Linked DNA regions of Homo sapiens: region 1 is linked to region 2. The links come from fine-mapping of genetic effects on gene expression. A gene starts in region 2. The other region holds a variant in brackets. All regions are shown on one strand. Distances are from middle to middle.

Region 1 (9,585 bases), 36 kb before region 2:
TCTGATGTCAGGCTCTGTTGCTGATGTGCCTTTCCTTGTACTGTGATACCAATAATAACACGGCCCCTGTTTTCTGCATGTCACCCTTGGGCCAGCACTGTGCCGGGAGCTTTACCTACATTATCTTGATTTTTCACCATAACCTGTGCGATGCATTTATTTATCTCCTCTTTGCAGATGAAGAAGTTGAGATGTGAAGAGACTGGGAAATATGTTTAAGTTCACTTAGCTAGTACAGTCAGGCCTCTGTATCCGCGGTTCCGTATCCGCAGATTCAACCAACTGAGGATTGAAAAGATTTGAAAAAGAACAATAAAAAATAACACCAAAAAAATACAAATAAGAAACCAATGCAGTATAATAACTATTTACCTAGCATTTACATTGTATTAGGTATTAAGTAATCTAGAGAGGATTTTTAAAGCATATAGGAGGACAGGTATAGGTTATATGCAGATATTACATCATTTTATATAAGGGACTTGAGTATTTGAGGATTTTGGTATCCTGGGGGCAGAGGGGTATCCTGGGACCAATACCCTGGGACACTGAGGGATGACTATATGTACTTTGCAGCAAGGACACAGAGCATAATGAAAGAGATGCACACTTTGGGAGGATGAGGCAGGTGGATCACTTGAGGCCAGGAGTTCGAGACCAGCCTGGCCAACATGGTGAAACTCTGTCTCTACTAAAAATACAAAAATTAGCCAGCATGGTGGCACACACCTGTAATCCCAGGTACGTGGGAGTCTGAGGCATGAGAATTGCTTGAACCCAGGAGGTGGAGGTTGCAGTGAGCCGAGATCACGCCAGCCTGGGTGACAGAGCAAGACTCCATCTCAAAAAAAAAAAAAAAGAGAGAGAGAGCTGTGGCTTCATAGGAGCTGTCCTTGAGTAAGGTTTGGGTCAGGAACTGGTTTTCTGCAGGGCAACCTCTGATCCAGGTATCAGGAGAGAAATTGCATCTTTTTTTGCTTTCTCTTTTAGAATCCTTTCCCTCTCATCCTTGTCCTGGCTGCCTTTGTAAGAATTCCCTATGGAGACAAAAGGGTTTAGAACCTTGGGTTGCAGGTGCCGCTAGGGCTGAGTGACACACGTCTGTTTTTGGTGATGTTCTTCCAGAATCTGATCAGTTGATCCAGCCTTGAGTCTTAATGTGGGACTCCATCGTGTTGAGCTAGGAGGGTTCACAAAACTCACTTCCACAGAACAATTCCACTTAAATAAGGAAAACTGAATTAAAAAAATTTCAAGGACCAGGAAATAATAGCAATCCCTCAGCAAACTGACAGCCTTCTATTTTGGGATGATGGTGAAGTTTTCCTGAGCTGAAAGAATATAAAAATAAAAGAGCTAATGTCTATTGAGTGCTATGTATATAACAGAAACCATAATGAGCACTTTCCATGGATCAACTCAATCTTCACGATGGTCCTATGAGCTAGATCTATTGTCATCCTCATTTTACAGATGAGAAAATTGAGGCAAAAGTATTAGGTAATTTGCCTAAGGTTAGCTGGCATGTAAGAGAAGGAGCTGAAATTTATATCTAGCTGTCTTATTCCAGAGCCCATCTGTGAAGCATGATGCTATATTACCTCTCCTGAAATAGATCTCACTTGCTGGAGTGCCTAGTAACCTATTCTGACACCGTTATACCCTATACAGAACTTTCAGGGAGAATTTTCATGGTAATTCTGACCAGAGGCAGGGCTATTATCCCACCAGCAGCTCAGTCCACCCAGAAAGATCCCAAGGAATGGAGCAGCAGGAAGTTCTGAAATTTAAAACCCTCTCCGGGCTGGGCACAGTGGCTCACGCCTGTAATCCCAGCACTTTGGGAGGCCGAGGCGGGCAGATCACAAGGTCAGGAGATCGAGACCATCCTGGCTAACATGGTGAAACCCCGTCTCTACTGAAAATACAAAAAAATTAGCCAGGCATGGTAGCGGGCGCCTGTAGTCCCAGCTACTTGGGAGGCTGAGGCAGAAGAATGGCATAAACCTGGGAATCGGAGCTTGCAGTGAGCCGAGATTGCACCACTGTACTCCAGCCTGGGTGATAGAGTGAGACTCCGCCTCAAAAAAAAAAACAAACCAAAAACCCTCTCCGGATGTTTGCATCTGTCTCTCTGCAGTTGGGAGACATGCCATACCTGTCCTGATTGGTGTCACAGGAGTCCCCAACCAGATCATTATCCACATCAGACTGCAAAGAGAACAGCACATGTTATTTATTCCTGGGCCTGCATGTACCGAATGTTCCAGAGAAGGCAGACCTCACCCATCATCATTGGATTTGGGGAATTATTTCTCTGGAACCGGGGTGGTGCAAAACTGCAAAAGGACAACACCATATTGGTGTAGGCACAATGCTGAATTTTCAAAAAAGCCTTCTAAAATATCAAGCTACATGGATGGGCTGCCCACACACCAGATGAGCTGATTGGAAAGGGGCGCTGGGGTAGCATGGTGGCAGGTGGAGGCATGGAACTCTGGCACGGGTCACAGGGAGCCAGCCATAGGCATGGGGAGAAGGCAGGTTGATTTTGCTTTGCTTCTGCAATTTGCAATTTGGCCAAAATCATGAGTGAGTCACAGAGGGCAACCATGACTCCCCTCTCTCAGGGCTTTAAAAATAAATGACACATCATACCCAATTATCCAGACAGGGAGGAGGAGTGAGAAGGGAGATGCAACACATCCCTGGCTGAACTTAATCTGAAATGTCCATACATAGGCTGTGTAGGGGTTTAGGGACTAAAGGGACACAAGGCTCCCAATGGTTAATTTCCATGCTCCGTTTTCCTTTCTGCAGGAAAAATACTTGTATTGAGCATCATGAAGTTCGTGTTACTAACCTCACAGGCAATCGACAGCCTGGGAGATAGTCCCTAGGGCTTCAGATCTTGTGTGGTGTTCATCCCACCATCTTCAGGCCCACAGTGTGTCATTTTTCCACCTCTGCTTTGTTAGGTAAGTGGCAACAGCTAAGAGGCTCTGCTGTTTTTCTAGACACCCGTCTTAAATGAGTCTTTGCATAGAGGAATTCAGCCTGGAGTTTGAATTCCCCAGTATCCTACTAACCTGGTTAGGGTTGCTGACATCAGGACAACTGTCACAGGCATCCCCCACACCATCACCATCCTTGTCCCGTTGGTCACGATTGGGAAATTTTGGGCAGTTGTCCAGAATGTTTTTTATTCCTGTGAGAAAGAAATGCTACCTTGAGTCAGGGGAATGTCACTGACTTCTTCTAGGTGCTGGAGAGATCAGGCGCATGGTGAGTCACTTCTGCCTGGGCCAGTGTCACACAGAGACTACCCTTTTCTGCAGTTATCCAGAGGTAGCTTCAAAGGACGGATTCTGGGAGACTTAAAAATGAACAGCTCTCAGAGGTATTTATCGACTGAATTCTAATTTGTCCAAGATGTCAAGGGCTATGATAGCAACCACGAGGAGGGGATCATGATGGCTGTATGGCTGACCCTGGAGAGGGAGGATCTCGTGGGTATCTGAGCTATGACTGAGACCCTAGGGCTCTAGGCAGTGTTGTGCTGGAGCTGGGTCCATTGTGTCCCTCTCTTTTCAGTTTTGTGTTTGATGATGTCACATTGGTAGCTTGAAATCAGCAATGAGGACAATGCGGAGTTACATCATGGAAACTGGAAAATGCTACCAACTAGGGCTTTCTGTGATTTGCTTACCAGCATATACCACTGGAAATGGGTCATCAGTTAGGCTTGCAGAAGGTGAGGTCATGTTTTAGGGGGGTGTGCATGTTCTGGAGTGGTGTATGTGTGTGTGTGTGTGTGTGTGTGTGTGTGTATGTGTGTGTTGGGGCAGGTGGTATTTCAAAAAGGTTTTTCCTTCAAGGGCCCACAATGGGATGTGTAGCCTGTGATGCATAGTCTGTGACCCTGCTCAATGCCTTCTCATTCAGTTCTCCACTTCTGGGTCTCTCACATGTAGAAAGGATAGTGGAGAGTGAGGACAGGTAGAAATGGGAAGGGAGATACCCCATAAAGACACACTCTGACAAGACACTGCTTGAAGGGGTCATACAAAGTTTCTGGCAATGATACAGAGTCCTGGAAACATCCAGAGCCATTAGGTAGTGGAGTGGGCTGTGGGGTCTCCTTCCATAGACACAAGTCCACCTTGGGTCTTCCAGATGCAGGCCACAATGAGCCACCCACAGCTGGAAGGCTCCGAATCAGTCATTCTATTCCTACTCTCTCAGAGAACAATGGAACAAGGTCAACTGAATTCCAAATAAAAGACAAAAGCAAGATAAATCTACCATCTCCATCCATGTCATCATCACAGGCATCTCCTCTTCCATCCCCATCGGTGTCTTTCTGGTCGTTATTTAAGACACTCAGGCAGTTATCACAGGCATCCCCAAAGATATCTTTATCGCTGTTCCTTTGGTCCACATTATGAATCAGGACACAGTTATCCTAAAAGATGAAAGGACAGAACATCACTCAGACTTTTACTAAATCCACTTCCTCCATTGTTGTGAAGCATCAGCACTCTGGTGGCCCAAGTTTGTCAGTTTTATATTTCAAACATCTGTGAATCTTATAGGGTAAAAAGCTGCAGTGCTGTGGAATGCAGGCATGGAAACTAACATTTGGGATGATTCATATACATAGTTGACATCACAGGCTTTCTCCCATCATCCCTGGTACGTGGCAATTCACAGGCCCTCCCAGCGAAGCAGGTACCTGCTCATTCAGGATCCCATCTCCGTCAGCATCCTCGTCACAAGCGTCGCCAATGCCATCTCTGTCTGCATCTTCTTGGCCAGAATTTGGCACATATTTGCAGTTGTCCTTAGGGGGAAAATGCAGTTCCGAGTGACATCCTACATTTGTGTTAAGCCAGTAACTGTTTCTGACCTCAAGACACTGTGGCTTTATTGTTGGTGGCTGTTTCACTTCCTCTGAGATGCAGCTACTTTACAAGTACAATTTTAAATTAGATCCACAGAACCTCTCCCCATAGAAGATGTGACTTTGGAAAGCCACAGTGCATGTGTGCCTACTGCCACCCCACACCCCTTACCTTTTTACAGTTCCTGGCAGAGCATGGCAGTTCTTCGTCGGGGTAACTGTCGATGTCCACATCCTTTCCACAGATATAGCCATCTCCAGCCCAACCGACTCCACACTGTAAAGGGAAAGCCCATCAGAGGCCTGGGAAGCTGAGCCTGGCAGG[A/G]AGCTGGTGGCTGACAAGGGCCTCTCTGCTCCTTTGCTCAATCCCAGGGGGAGGGCCCAGAGTCACTCAGCCTTGTTGGGTGGGGCTTAGAAACTATTTAATTGCACTTGAATAGTGTAATGGTTCACTATTCAAAGATATAAAGGGAGACTCAGAGAGAAAACTCTCCCTCCCACTCCCACTTCCAGGAACAGGCAGAGCAGCAGAAGGGAGATGGGAGGAGGGGACCCAGAAGGTCACAGGGAACTGGAAACGCAGAGGGAGAGAAAGCTGACCTGGGACGGGAGGTAAAGGAAGGAAGAGGGAGAGAGTCTGAGGAGCAGAGTCTGGGCCAAGGGAAATCAGACTTATGTGAGCACAGGTTAAATTTCCTGGCCTCACCACCCAAAAGCTTTCAGACCAGTGACTTCCTCAGCCACAGCCTGCTTATTCTCAATCATCTGTGCTCTCCCTCTGCAACCAGGATTTAGGAGGCAGAACTCCAGAGAGACCCTCCCGGGCTCCTGGTTCCTGCTCACTTGCCCCAGCAGGGCCTTTGGAAGGCCTGGAAGGCTGATCCACGAGGCTGATCCTTGACTCACTTTAATGAGGAAAAAATGTCCTCTAGGAACAAATACATTTTTAATGAGCTATTTTCTGGCAGATTCAATTATTTTAGTAGTCACGCCAAGTTTATTAATCCTTTACCATCTGTCGTTGTGCCTTATTACAAATTCAAAAACATATTAAGAGCCCCATCACCCATCATCCCAGGGGAGTTGTCAATTTGTTCACAGAAAATGGGGATTTCAACAGAGATATACACTTGTTTCTCAATGACTGCTTTTTGGTAATAAACAAGCCCAACCATGAGGAATTCAGGAAATTGCTGGGGTTATTCCCCCTCTGATACACCACATTCTTCCATCTGACCTTGTTACAGAATATCTGTATTGCCAAGGAGGGCTGACTTCATTATATTTATTTATTAACTCATTTTTGACTCTTATTTTTCCTATTTGAAAAGTGGTAGGCTCATTGTGGAAAATTGTGTATGCATAAAGATAAAGAAGCATAACTTTGAGATAAAGATGGAAAAGGGCTCCGAGAATCCATCTTGCTACTCAGGGGTGATCACTGTGAACCAGTGACCCCAGAGTCTGACGGGCCACCGGCCGAGGGCCTGGCATCCCAGGAAGTGCAGAGGAGGGGGGCAGCTGAAGTCTGCTGATTTTTCAGTGCCTAGGATCCCCAGGACTTTGGATCCTTGGATTTGGGAATGGATGGCAGGCTGAGGACTCTGGATCCTTGGACTTGGGAATGGATGGCAGGCTGAGGACTCTGGATCCTTGGATTTGGGAATGGATGGCAGGCTGAGGACTCTGGATCCTTGGATTTGGGAATGGATGGCAGGAGCATGCCCTCTCCTTCACATAGGGCCCACTACAAGCTCAGCATGGGACCCATGTCAGGCCCTGCTGTGACTGCTCTACTCTCTTCCCAGCCTCCCCTCCCCAGACCAGCTCCGTGGCTGGAGAATGCACAGGAAGCGTGACCATTCATGGAGCTGTCCCTGATTGGAGTGGAGGTAGACATACAGCATGGCGCCGTCTGGCCCTGCCAGTCACCTGCCAAAGACGGAAGGTTTCTCCCGGAGGGACTATGACAGTCCCCACCTCTACACGATGGCCCACCCCCAACAGGAGCGTCAAGGCAGACAGACTCTGGAAGTTGTAAGGATGAGGACAGTTAGAGATGACAGCAGGTATGTTGTCATTATACAGGCAGGTAGATGGGGCAGAAGAAGGAAAGGGGAGAAGAATGTTCCTTCACCTCCCTGCTGCTGGCTTCTGGGCCTTTCCATAGAAGGTGCTTGGGAGCTGGGGCTTCACCGGAGGCTCTGGCATCCAGGTACCCAAGTGGACAGGGTTGCCCCCCAGCCAAGAGGGAGAGAAAAGGCAGCTGATGGTTAGATGGATGTCAGGCTGCTCCCCACAAACTCGGTGGACCCTGTTCCTATTACACTCCATGCTCATTTAATTGCAATGCTTTCATTTTGGAGTACTTTTACCCTGAAGCACATAGAAACTGGAGAGAGGTGGTGTTAAAAATGGAAGAGGAAAAATGATAGAGGAAGTCAAAAAACAACTTACCACACATGTCACATCCCCCTGCCTCTCTTCAATGCACTGGGCATTCACACTGCAAGGGTTCAGCTCTGGGTTTCTGCAGTTTCTTTCCGCTTTGCATCCCCTTATCTGATCACCAGTATACCCCGGCTTACAAGGCCCACAGCGGTAAGATCCCTGCAAGGAACAAAGATCAGGTGATGAGCTGAAAGCTGTGGGCAAAGGTACAGTTTGAGCAAAGGTACAGTTATTGTGTATATTTTCACAGGTACTCATTGCTGGCAGGAATCAGGCATCAGATCCATGCCTTCTTCTTTGCTTACATGTAAGATCATGTGAATGTTGATGAAAACACCATCAGACTGGAGGCTGCGTCCGGCCACTCAGACAAAGAAGGAATAGAAGTGAAGGAAGAAGGCTGGACTGTGAACCAATGACACTGAGTTGCCCGCGCCACCGTGGAGGGCATAGGGGACAGGTCAAAAGTTCCAGTGAAGTCCTGGGAGGTGGTGTGAGAAGTTTACTCTGGGGACAGGGAGATGATCTGCTTAAAAAGCAAGTTAATTTTTCTTATTGCTGTTCCTTTGGCTCTTTTACAATGGAATGACAAAGGAATGGGTGCACAGAGAAATGCTGGTGGCCTGCATTGAGAATTTCTGATGAGGTAGGCTGAGAAACTGACAAATGAGCTGTCAGCTCCGCTGCAATGACACTTCAGGGGCCAGGTTTTTTTAGCTTTTATATATATAATATATATTATCACACTGCACACTATATATGTAATAAATATTATACAATATGTTTAAAAAATGAAAATTAAAATTTTCATCTTTATTGAGGTATAATTGACAAAACTGAATATATTTAAAGTGTGCAGTGTGATGATGTGATATACGTATACATTGTGAAATGATTACCACAGTCAGTTAAGTAACACATCCATCAACTGACATAGTTACCTTCCTTTTTTTCTTTTTCAGTGAGAACACTTAAGATCTGCTCTCTTAGCAGATTTCATATATATAATATAGTATTATTAACTACAGTCACCATGCTGTACATTAGATCTTTTTCATCTTATGCAGTTTTATTGGCATAACATTTACAGGTCGTAAAAGACATCCATTTGAAGTATATATATTGTTTAATGATTTAAGTCACTCACAACCTCTTAGTTGCCAAATCCAATGCATGCTTTCCAATGACTTGTCTCGATCTTTCAGCCTCCCTGGCTGTGCTATCAGTTCGCTCCTTTTTCTGGCTTCTGCTCTTTTTCCTTGGCCTAGTCCTTCGTTTTTGGGGTTTCCTGGAGTTCTATTTACTGTCTACTTTCCTTCTCTCTAGGTGGCTCAGTTATTACCTTTACACCAAGATCTCGCAAATCTATTTGCAGACTACTTTGTCCTGGTAAAAGCTGAGAAGCAATAAATCCCCATCTATTCCTAAGCAATATAGCATTGCGGAGAAGAACTCAGGCTCTGTAGCCAACCTGGAAGATGTGTGACCTTAGTCTAAATACGTAACATTTCTTTTTTTTCTTTTTGGAGACAGGGTCTCCCTCTGTCACCCAGGTTAGAGTGCAGTGGCGATCACAGCTCACTGTAGCCTCAAACTACTCTTGTACCCAAATGATCCTTCGGCCTCAGCCTCCTGAGGAGCTGGGACTATAGGCATGCTCCACCATGCCTGGACTTAATGATGTAATATTTCTGTCCCTCAGTTTCTTCAATTGTAAAATGGGGATAATAATAATCCCTGTTTATGAGGTTGTTGTGAGGATTAAAATAAGTGACTTGATAAATGTAAAGTGTTTTTACTTACAAGGAAACAAGGAACCTAGAGGCTGGATAACTTTCAAATAGTCATACACGTAATCAGTAGTTCTTTTCTTGATAGTCAACTCTGGTACATCTCTCATCTTGGACACAGTTTGACAGGAACTTTCAGAAATAAAACCCATATCTGAATACTTAAGTTATAGGCATCCCTAAGTGCTAAGCACTTTAATTTAATACAATGAAAAGTTTTGAAAAGTTTTTTTTTTTTTTTTTTTTTGAGAGGGAGTCTTGCTCTGTCGCCCAGGCTGGAGTGCAGTGGTGCGATCTCGGCTCACTGCAAGCTCCGCCTGCCGGGTTCATGTCATTCTCCTGCTTCAGCCTCCAGAGTAGCTGGGACTACAGGCACCCGCCACCAGGCCCGGCTAATTTTGTTTTCTATTTTTAGTAGAGACGGGGTTTAACCATGTTAGC
Region 2 (9,585 bases):
AGTGGCTGGACATTTGAGCCAGAAGAAATACAGCACAATATTCATCACTGGGTGTAGCCCTCAAGAGAGAGGACTGAATTTGCAAACACATAATTGGGTTTGGCTGAACAAGTAGCTCTGAAAATGCCCACCAGGAAAAGCACTAAAGGCTTAAAGTACAAGGGGGACTGGTGAAAGCATCCAAGCCATTGCTTTACTGATGTCCCCAAGCAGTGAATTTCTGTCACGGAGTCCCATAGGCACCTCCAGGACCAGAGCCAATTGTGTTTTCCTGGTCAGTGACAAATGACAGGAAATGCAGCAGAAAACATGGCTATGGTGGTAGATGTGCTGGTAGAAAGTGATTTGCCACCTTTGTGAGACCTAAGTGTTCCCTTTGTGCCTTTACAATTCTCCAACATTTCTCTGTTTAAAAAAATCCCAATGTGGAAACAAAACAAAACAAAATGATGTGGTTTCTGTCTCTTGACTGATAGAATTGCTCTACAAAAATCAGAATCTGCATTTGTATTTGTATAAGTTGCTTTTGATCAAGCAAGCAGTACTTTCTCTCACAAACTTTGTAATATTTATGAAAGCTATGAGAGAGTATGCCCAGAGTCATTTAAAAGGCAAAGGCCAAATTTGGGTAATACTCAGTGGAAGTTATTTAGTATATCTATTAGCAGACGCAAATATCATTTGAACAATTCCATAGGCTGCAGAAACTTCAGCACCTACAGCTGTCTCTTGGATATAATAATCTGGTTATTAAATGGGTAATATTGACAATTGATAAAGAGTTCTTACAAATCAATAAAATGATAAGCATCTTAATAGAAAAATGGGCAAGGAATATGAAAAGGCAATTTACATAAAAAGAATTACAATGACCATTAAGTATATAAATAAATGTTCATGTATTTACCTAATGATGCAGGAGTTGCTAACTTAAACAATAACGTATTGTTTTCACCATCGAATTGGAAAATTAGTAAATACAACAGTACTCAACTGTTTGTGAGGGTTCAGGGAAATGGGCACTCTCTGTACCACTGTGTAACATTTAAACTAGTATAAACATTTTGAAGACAGTTTAAACAACAGTATCAAAGGCCCTAAAACATATGTGCTCCTTGATCTAGCAATTCTGCTTATGGGAATTTATCCTAGGGAAATAATGGATAACATGGTAAATGATTTAGGTACAAGAATATTAGACACTAGTGGTAATTCTAGAATTTCTATTTAGGAAAGAATTAGGTGAAAATCTAATTGGAAGAGAGGTAAACCTGAGCTCTGTTGGCATAGCATTTTGCTATGAAAACATTAACTGTCCTTAGCAAAAAAAAAGAGAAGGGCTTGGCTGAGATTGAGGGGATGGTTAAACTCATCCCAAACCATCCTGTGACACCTGCACTTGTTCAATAAATTAATATTTACAATATCAAAACCGAAAACAACTTAAGGGTTCTATATTACAACCCTGGCTAAATACATTTTGATTCTTCCAAAAAGCAGAATACTACCTATTTTTAAAATGTAGCTGAATACTTACAGATGTGAAAAGATGTTCATGATACATTAAGAAAAAAGGATTCTAAAACTATATGTATAACGTAATTCCATTTGAAATATATTTTTGCATAGAAAAATATTTGAAATGAAAGACAATACAACAACATGTTAATGTTAATAGAAGCTATCCCCGGGTTGCATAAATATAAGTTTTAAATTTCCTCTTTTCTTTTTATTTTATTTTTTGCTTATCTAACTTTAATCTTTTCTACAATGGGCAGGTATTGCTTTTGTAATAAGAATGAATAAAAGTTCTAAAGCAAACAGGCAAAAACCTAGTTACTCAAGAATATTTACCCCTTTTAAAAGACAATTTGTCTTCAAACTGGATCTATACTGTATTTTTCACATGTACCAGGGGTCCTTACACAATAATGAAATTAACATGAGATGTGTTGGAAAGCAGAACATTTACTGTGCTCCTCTTAGTGCCTATATCCCTAAACCATAAACACTGTTGCCTACTGCATTTCAAAAGGGAAATTGGATTTTTTAATTTTCAAGAGAATTGGAAACTTTACATTTCCACTAATGAGGGCAAAGGGAAATAAGGCAATATGTTTTAAAGTTCCATTCAGGACAAAACATCTTCAGAAAAGAGATATGTATTTAAAGTATGGGAACTACATTCAAAACAAAATTCTTAGTACTCTTGATTCTTCCTTTGACTATGATCAGGTTCATGATGTAACTCAAGCTAAACTTGCGGTATTTCAATCTATGGTTCGTCTGATTCATTTGCATCTCTCTCAAGCGGCAGAGATGGGATTAGTTAGTAATGAACATAGAGAGTGTTTTGAAAAGGAAATGAGACACTACCATTTTCTATTAATGTTATTACGTTTAAGTGCCAGGATCAAAGCACAACCCTCTACTGTTAGAGGTGAAATTACTGCTACCAATGAGCGCAGCTACCATGGTATGTAAATTGAATATATACTAATTTAAGACCAACAATGAAGCTCAGGGGAAGAAGGAGATAATCAAATTATCCTGTTAAGCCTGATAATTGCAGACTAGATAATGCAATAAAAGAATCTATCAGAAACTTAACTTAATCAGATCATCTACAGCAACTAAATTACCCAGATAATTTAGGTTGTATAGGCCGAGTTCAAATCTCCATAAAATGGTCAGGTATGTCTGAGACATACCTAAGGCACACCATAAAGCTGTATGTTCAAAAGTCAAGAACGTATATAACACAAAAAAATTATACCTATAAATTTGAACTTGCCAAATATCATCACAATAAGACTTTTGAAGTGTTTAAAAGCTTCCTTTTTTACCTTCCTAGAAGTATGGGGCACGGACTACAGCATTTCAAATACTTCAACACAAACTAAAAGTTAGCAGTACTCTAACCCCTGAAACCACAGTTCTGGTTGTCTGGTCTGGAATGAAAATGAGTTATTTGGCGAAATGCAGTTTAAATGGGTGATTCCAGCAGCGAGAGGCAGGGAAGTTGAGAACGCCCTCATAGGCAGTCTTTGCTCTGGCTACAAGAGGAAAAACAACTTTTACTTCAAGTTGTGCGTCTCTTCCAGTTTTACTTCCACAGTCAGTAATAAATCAACCCAGGCACCAAGTTCAAACAGATGAAGCTCACGCCTGACCAGTTAGGGCCAGTTATAGCCCTAAGATCTTTCTTTGCTTAAATCATGTCTTCCTTTTGGTCTTTACAAAAAATTCTGTTTAACTGCTTTCTACCCAATGGCTATTTCACCCCATTTCACCAAGGGGTTTGAGGATTGTCCAAGTATCTTTTCACATTATTTGTTGAATTTTTACCGTTTCATAGAAAAAGATCAATTTCTTTCTTTTTTCTTTTTAAATTATAGATTCAGAGGGTACATGTGCAAGTTTGTTACATGGGTGCATTGCATAAGGTGGGATTTGAGCTTCTAGTGAACACATCACCCAGTGAACGTAGTACCCAATTGGTAGTTTTCCCAACCTTCCCCCCTACTTTTGGAGTCCCCAGTGTCTACTGTTTCCATCTTTATGTCCATATCTATCCACTGCTTAGCTCCCGCTTGTGAGAACATGGTATTTGCTTTTCTGTTCCTGCCTTAATCCACTTAGGAAAATGGCCTCCAGCTGCATCCATCTTGCTGCAAAGAACTGATTTCATTGAAAAAGACCAGTTTCTCAGCCCTTCCTATTTACCTCAGAAATTAAGACATCAAGCCAATCCTTGAAATAAACTTTCTTTTTGTCGTTCAAGCAAAGTCAGAGCAGAAAATGCAGGTGGCAGGGCAAGTAGAGTAATTCTGCGTCTTTCTCAGGGATGTCAAGAGCAGACTCTGGGCATACATCGCTCCGCCTGAGGAAGGATTTAGGGAGCAAGGCTGCCTGGAGGGAACCGGCACAGGGTGCAGGACCCGGAATTCACCCTACACCAGAGCCTAACATGTTAAGAGGTCTAGGACCGTGTAGCAAGTTTTGAAGGCAACCCCACCCCACATCTTTGCATAGTCTGAAACAATTTTGCATCCCCCAACTATTTAGGCAATTGTTCTCATCATTGGATAATCGAATTTCGGAAAATTCTAGACTAATCACTACCTCCAATCACAATATGCTTTGATTGGGCCCGGGAGGGACAGAGAGGGGCTGAGCAAGGCCACAGGAGCACAGGGCCGAGCAAGTCCCTCCACTCACTCAGCAGATGGGGCACCCGGTGCCCGGCGCTCCCAGGCCCGACCCGAACCCACTTACCCTGGGGGGTGGCCTGGGCGCCTGCCGCTAGCCACCGCTGCAGGACCAGGTGCAGCAGGAGGACGGCGGCTCCGCGCGGGGCCAGCATGTTGGCTCTTCCTGCTCCCCGCGAGGCCGGGGGCGACGGCGGCGTTGGCCCCGCCTGGGGGTCCCCGGGCCGTGCGTTGAACCTCGGTCGGCGCCCGGGCCGGCGCCGCAGGTGACCCGTGCTCGGCGTCCGGGCTGCCGTCGGGGGCGCGCTCGCGTCCCCGCCGTGCGGTGCTGGGGAGCTGGCTGCTGGGCTCCGCGGCAGCGGCCGGGCGCTTTATGGTGCGGCCGGGCGGGGGAGGGCCGGGGCGGGGGCGGCCCCCTTGGCGGGATCCCCTGTCCTGGGAAGAGCTGGGCAGCTGGAGCAGCGAGCCGGGGCCGCAGGGAGAAAGGCGCGGGTGTGAGGATGGGAAGGAGCCTGGACGGACCAGGTCCTGGGGTGGGTGTAGACACGGCCCCGACGCGCGAGGGTAGGGGCGAAGATGGGCAGTCGGGGCTGGAGAGAAAGGGGTGCTGAGCAGAGACCACAGGGGAGAAAGGAGCGGGAGGAAAGGGGCGAAAGGGAGGAAGAAAGTGACACTGACCCACTAGCTTTGGGCACCTTCAGTCCCCTACTCCTTGCGCTCCTTTTGTTTTCTAAAAAGAAGAATATCCTTTGGATCGGCTTTGAATGCCCACCTTGGGTTCCCTTGCGAATGAATCCTGAAGTTCTCCAGGAACGCTCTGCCTCCTAAAGTGGCCCAGAGAGCAGCGAGTTTCTTTTATTTCTTCAAGCTTTTCTTGAATACTTGAAAGGCTGAATTTTTTTCTCTATCATTTTGAGACACAGTGAAAGTTTGAAAGTTGTTGTGTTTTTAATGGAGATAAAACACATCTCAAGGAATCCATCCAGACAGAGCCATTTCTAGGCTGGTGAATCTGTGCTTTATGGATAATTCGTTTTCAGTATGGTTTCCAAACGCCCTGCTTGCCCACCTCTATTCCTCTGTCACCAAAGATTCCGTGTGACAGTTTAAAGGTACGGGAGTAGAACTTGAAAGAGATCGGAGGAACGCAAGTAATTCGTCCTTTTCCTGGGCAAAGCTCCCGGAATGATATGGATTAACTAGAGGAAAAAATATTTGATAAACAGTGGCAAAAATTTCTCCTCTGTAACAATCTCGACTAATGGAGAACATCCAGCAAAGTATTGCTATCTCTTTTATGTCTCAAATAATTCCATTTCAAAGTTTAATAAGCCACAAACTGGGAGATTAATGCACCATTTTATCCCCAAACTGTGCTAAAATAACCTGACACCAATTATCACTCAATTTACAGCTAGCGACTTGGAGATTTGTGAGCTATCTGCAGAGCTCTCTAATATGTAAGGTCCAATACAGGTCTATCCAGGGTTCCTTTAATGCCACATTACACTACAGTCACTCTTTGGAATGGGGCATATGTCTACACATGAGAGAACACTGAGAGACACAGAGGATGTGCATAAATATCGACTAATGAGATAAACTAGATTTGGGAACATTCAAATCTCCAGACCATGTTCCCAGGAGTGGCCTGGGTTTGAGAGGAATCTAGGCTCCCAAGCTACGCTTCAAGCAGAACAGCCTTGCCTTTCTATGTTTTTACAGTAGACTTCAGAGATTAAGATTTTCTGTGAAGACAATATTTGGATGCTCAAAATTTTGAAAGCCACTATTCAGTGGTTCTCAGCTGATTGGGTATACCAGAATCTCCTGGGGAATTTAAAAAACAGTGATTAGGTGCCTACAGGGAACAAATGAAACCAAACATCAAAAGCAGCAATATGCTATATCACACCATAGACTACTCTGATACATAAAATAGGGTTACTCCTTAAATGAGTCACCAAGCAAGCCTAGTGGATGCCTGTGAGAGTTCTTGTGTAGTGTGCCACCAGACACTGCCTGTTTCCTCTCAGATCTGGTGCTCACCTTCCACTGCATGCTTGTCAGCAGTCTAGATAAAATGGGAGACTAGAGAGCAATAAGAAGGTAGAAGGTAGACACTAGAGTATTTACTTCTCTGTGACCTGAATGGATGCATCTTCTTTGTGACTCTTGCAGGTGGGGTCCACCATGATTCTAGCTTCTGCCTTCTCACCATTTGCACCCTCCAGCCATGACATTGGAGGTCACTTACTGCAGTTGCTAAAATGTGGATTGCCTCACTCTTCTGTTTGACATCTCAGTTCTTCTACTATATATGTAATCATTTCCCTGTATTAAATTTCTTCTATTTAAAATACCTAGAGTATTTGCTAGGAATCTCCATGGTGAGGACAATGCACCACGTGCTGCTGGAGGTAGATGTGTTGGAGGGCACCCTGCAGTGCCCAGAGTCTGGACGTGTGTTCCCCATCAGCCGCAGGATCCCCAACATGCTGCTGAATGATGAGGAAACAGAGTTGATCATGCCAGGTGCCAGTTTTTCTTTTTATGACCGTGTGTATTTTTGTTGATGTTACCCTGTTTCTGAATTCTGCCATGTGTGTCCCCAACCCTTGACCCAATGACACACCAGACGCACGGTGTTCTTGAGCACAATAGTATTTTTTCTCATTAAAGATTCAAAACCAAAACAAACAAACAACAAAAAAACTAGGAATTTTCGATCCTAGCAAATTCCCAGCAAAATAGCTTGCACATCATGATGGTTAATGTTGAGTGTCAACTTGACTGGATTGAAGGATGTAAAGTATGGCTCCTGTGTGTGTCTGTGAGGGTGCTGCCAAAGGAGATTAACACCTGAGTCAGTGGACTGGGAAAGGCGGACCCACCCTCAATCTGGGTAGGCACCATCTAATCAGCTGCCAGCATGGCTAGAATAAAGCAGGCAGGAGAAGACGGAAGAGCAGACTTGCTGCGTCTTCTGGCCTTGATCTTTTTCTGTGCTGGATGCTTCCTGCCCGCAAACATTAGACTCCAAGTTCTTCAGCTTTTGGACTCTTGGACCTACATTAGTGATTTGCCAGGGGCTGTTGGGCCTTCAGCCACAGACTAAAGGTTGCACTGTCAGCTTCCCTACTTGAGGTGTTGGGACTCAGTCTGGCTTCCTTGCTCCTCAGCTTGCAGACGGCCTATTGTGGGACTTCATCTTGTGATCGTGCGTCAATACTCCTTAATAAACTCCCCTTCCTATCTATCCTGTTAGTTCTGTCCCTCTAGAGAACTCTGACTAATACACACATATAGGCACACAATAAATTTTGGTTGACTACTAAGTGTAACGGAAAAACAAAAGAATCAAATGACTTTCTGTTAGCCTAACAGAATTTACAATCTGGTTTTGCTTTTAGAGGGCTTGCATTTTTATGCAGCCATTCGCTAGGGAGTCTCAGTAAACTTTATGTCCTCAGGTCTACAGTAAATTTGATTATAATAAAATTAATTTAATTAGCTATGAAATATATGATAAAGGAGACAAAAGAGTTTATTTTCATTTCCATGCCACTTCTTATTAAAATATCTATTCATGTACTTACATTGGATTTTATTTCATTTATTTTAATAATGTATTAATTTGTTTGATTTTTTTTCCAGTATCCAACTGTGAGCTCCTTAGGATTATCTCATTTAGTTTTGTAACTCTAATTCCAAGTACAGTACCTAACATTTAGTAGTAAATATATCATTGAATTGACTTTCCTTCTCTTAATACTGTAATCTAGGATAAGAGTTGTGACATATTAGTAATCCATTAATAGGTGCAGTAGGTTACAAAAATGGCCCCAATTCTTTGCTCTTCTGTGTACACATCTTTTATTTTTCTGTGTACACATCTCATGGCTTGGCCACGTAACATGCTTGGCCAACAGGATTTTGGCAAAAGTGCCACAAGCAGAGGCTTAAAAAGTGCTTGTGTTATTGGGCTGGTTTACTCCTGCACCTTTGCCTTTGCCATGATAGCATGCCTGTGCTGGCCTACTGGAGGATGAGAGACATAGAGCAGGGTATAGCCCACCCCTGGCAAAGCCAGCCAAGATCAAGCTGACAGATGAATGAGTTCAGGCAAGATCAGCAGAGCTGTTTAGTTGACTCCAGATGTGTGAGCAGGACACATTTATTTTTGTATACCATTGAGGTTTGGGGGTTGTTTGTTATGTAACAATATTGTAGCAATAGAGAACTGATATACTACATTTTATTTCTTTTCTAATTGTTGTAATACAGAGTATGACTTAATTTTTGATGTTTGACTGCAGACAGTTCTCAAGCCCCACCACTTCCCTTCCTCTCTGCCCCACATCTGAGCAAACTGATAAGAATGCCTAGGTGCTCCTTCCTTGGCACTAGCACAAAGTTCCAACAGTAAGCCCTAGCCCATGTACAGGAACCCTCACCACAGCCCCACTCCTAACCACAATAAGAATCCCAAAGCCATTCTCCTTTCTTGTTCTCTCTAGTTTTCAGACCAGCTTGGAAGCCCATCTTACTCTCCCCCAAAAAAACGTATTATGTGAGCAATAAACCTTTCAAACCCCTTTGCTGCATGTGTGATGGCATTATTGATTTTGATATCCAAACCCAATTTTGAGAGTGGGGATCTATCCTGCTCCTGTGCGGTGACTATAGCACCATTCTTCGCAAGTGGGGGAAATCACCCATACTGTGCACTGATATTTGGCACAACTAAGTAGAAGTTTTATACATATGTGTTAATTGATATAGGTATAATAAAAAAGTTACCATTATTTATGTCAGGTTTTCCACTTGAATTTTTGAAGGAAACAGAAATGGATATAATTATTAACATTAAAAGATGGATAAAGGGGCCAGGCATGGAGGCTCATGCCTATAATCTCAGCACTTAGGATGCCAAGGTGGGAGAATCACTTGAGCCAGGAGCTGGAGACCAACCTGGGCAACATAGTGAGACCTCATCTCTATAAAAATAAAAATTAAAAAATCAGGCCAGGCGCAGTAGCTCACACCTATAATCTCAGCACTTTGGGAGGCCGAGGCCGGTGGATCACAAGGTCAGGAGTTCGAGACCAGCCTGGCCAACATGGTGAAACCCCGTCTCTACTAAAAATACAAACAATTAGCCAGGCATGGTGGTGGGCACCTGTAATCCTAGCTACTCAGGAGGCTGAGGCAGGAGAATCGCTTGAACCCGGGAGGTGGAGGTTGCAGTGAGCCGAGATTGCACCACTGCACTCCAGCCCAGGCAACAGTGTGAGACTCTGTCTCAAAAAAAAAAATTAAAAAATTAGTTAGCCATGGTGGTGCCCACCTGTGGCCCCAGGAACTTGGGAGG

The links. PIP is the estimated chance that this variant, and not a neighbour inherited with it, causes the effect.
Region 1: its variant is fine-mapped to the expression of THBS4 in blood mononuclear cells (TOPMed, PIP above 0.99). The same link has a PIP of 0.9 or more in monocytes and whole blood.

Annotation. Positions count from the first base shown.
Region 1 is chr5:80,065,901-80,075,485 of GRCh38, reverse strand. It overlaps THBS4 (thrombospondin 4), which reads right to left. Exons shown (of 22, transcript NM_003248.6): 10 at 7,361-7,513; 11 at 5,076-5,180; 12 at 4,736-4,843; 13 at 4,306-4,465; 14 at 3,090-3,208; 15 at 2,159-2,211. It overlaps THBS4-AS1 (THBS4 antisense RNA 1), which reads left to right. Exons shown (of 8, transcript NR_109930.1): 4 at 2,821-2,978; 5 at 3,263-3,400; 6 at 3,595-3,754; 7 at 6,712-6,972; 8 at 7,605-9,137. Among named protein-coding and RNA genes, the nearest start is that of THBS4-AS1, 13 kb to the left of the region's middle. RefSeq lists an enhancer at 4,098-5,297. The variant A/G (reference allele first, on the strand shown) is at 5,229.
Region 2 is chr5:80,030,319-80,039,903 of GRCh38, reverse strand. THBS4 (thrombospondin 4) reads right to left here and starts at 4,556. Exons shown (of 22, transcript NM_003248.6): 1 at 4,279-4,556. The coding sequence starts at 4,366. It also overlaps the pseudogene TRMT112P2.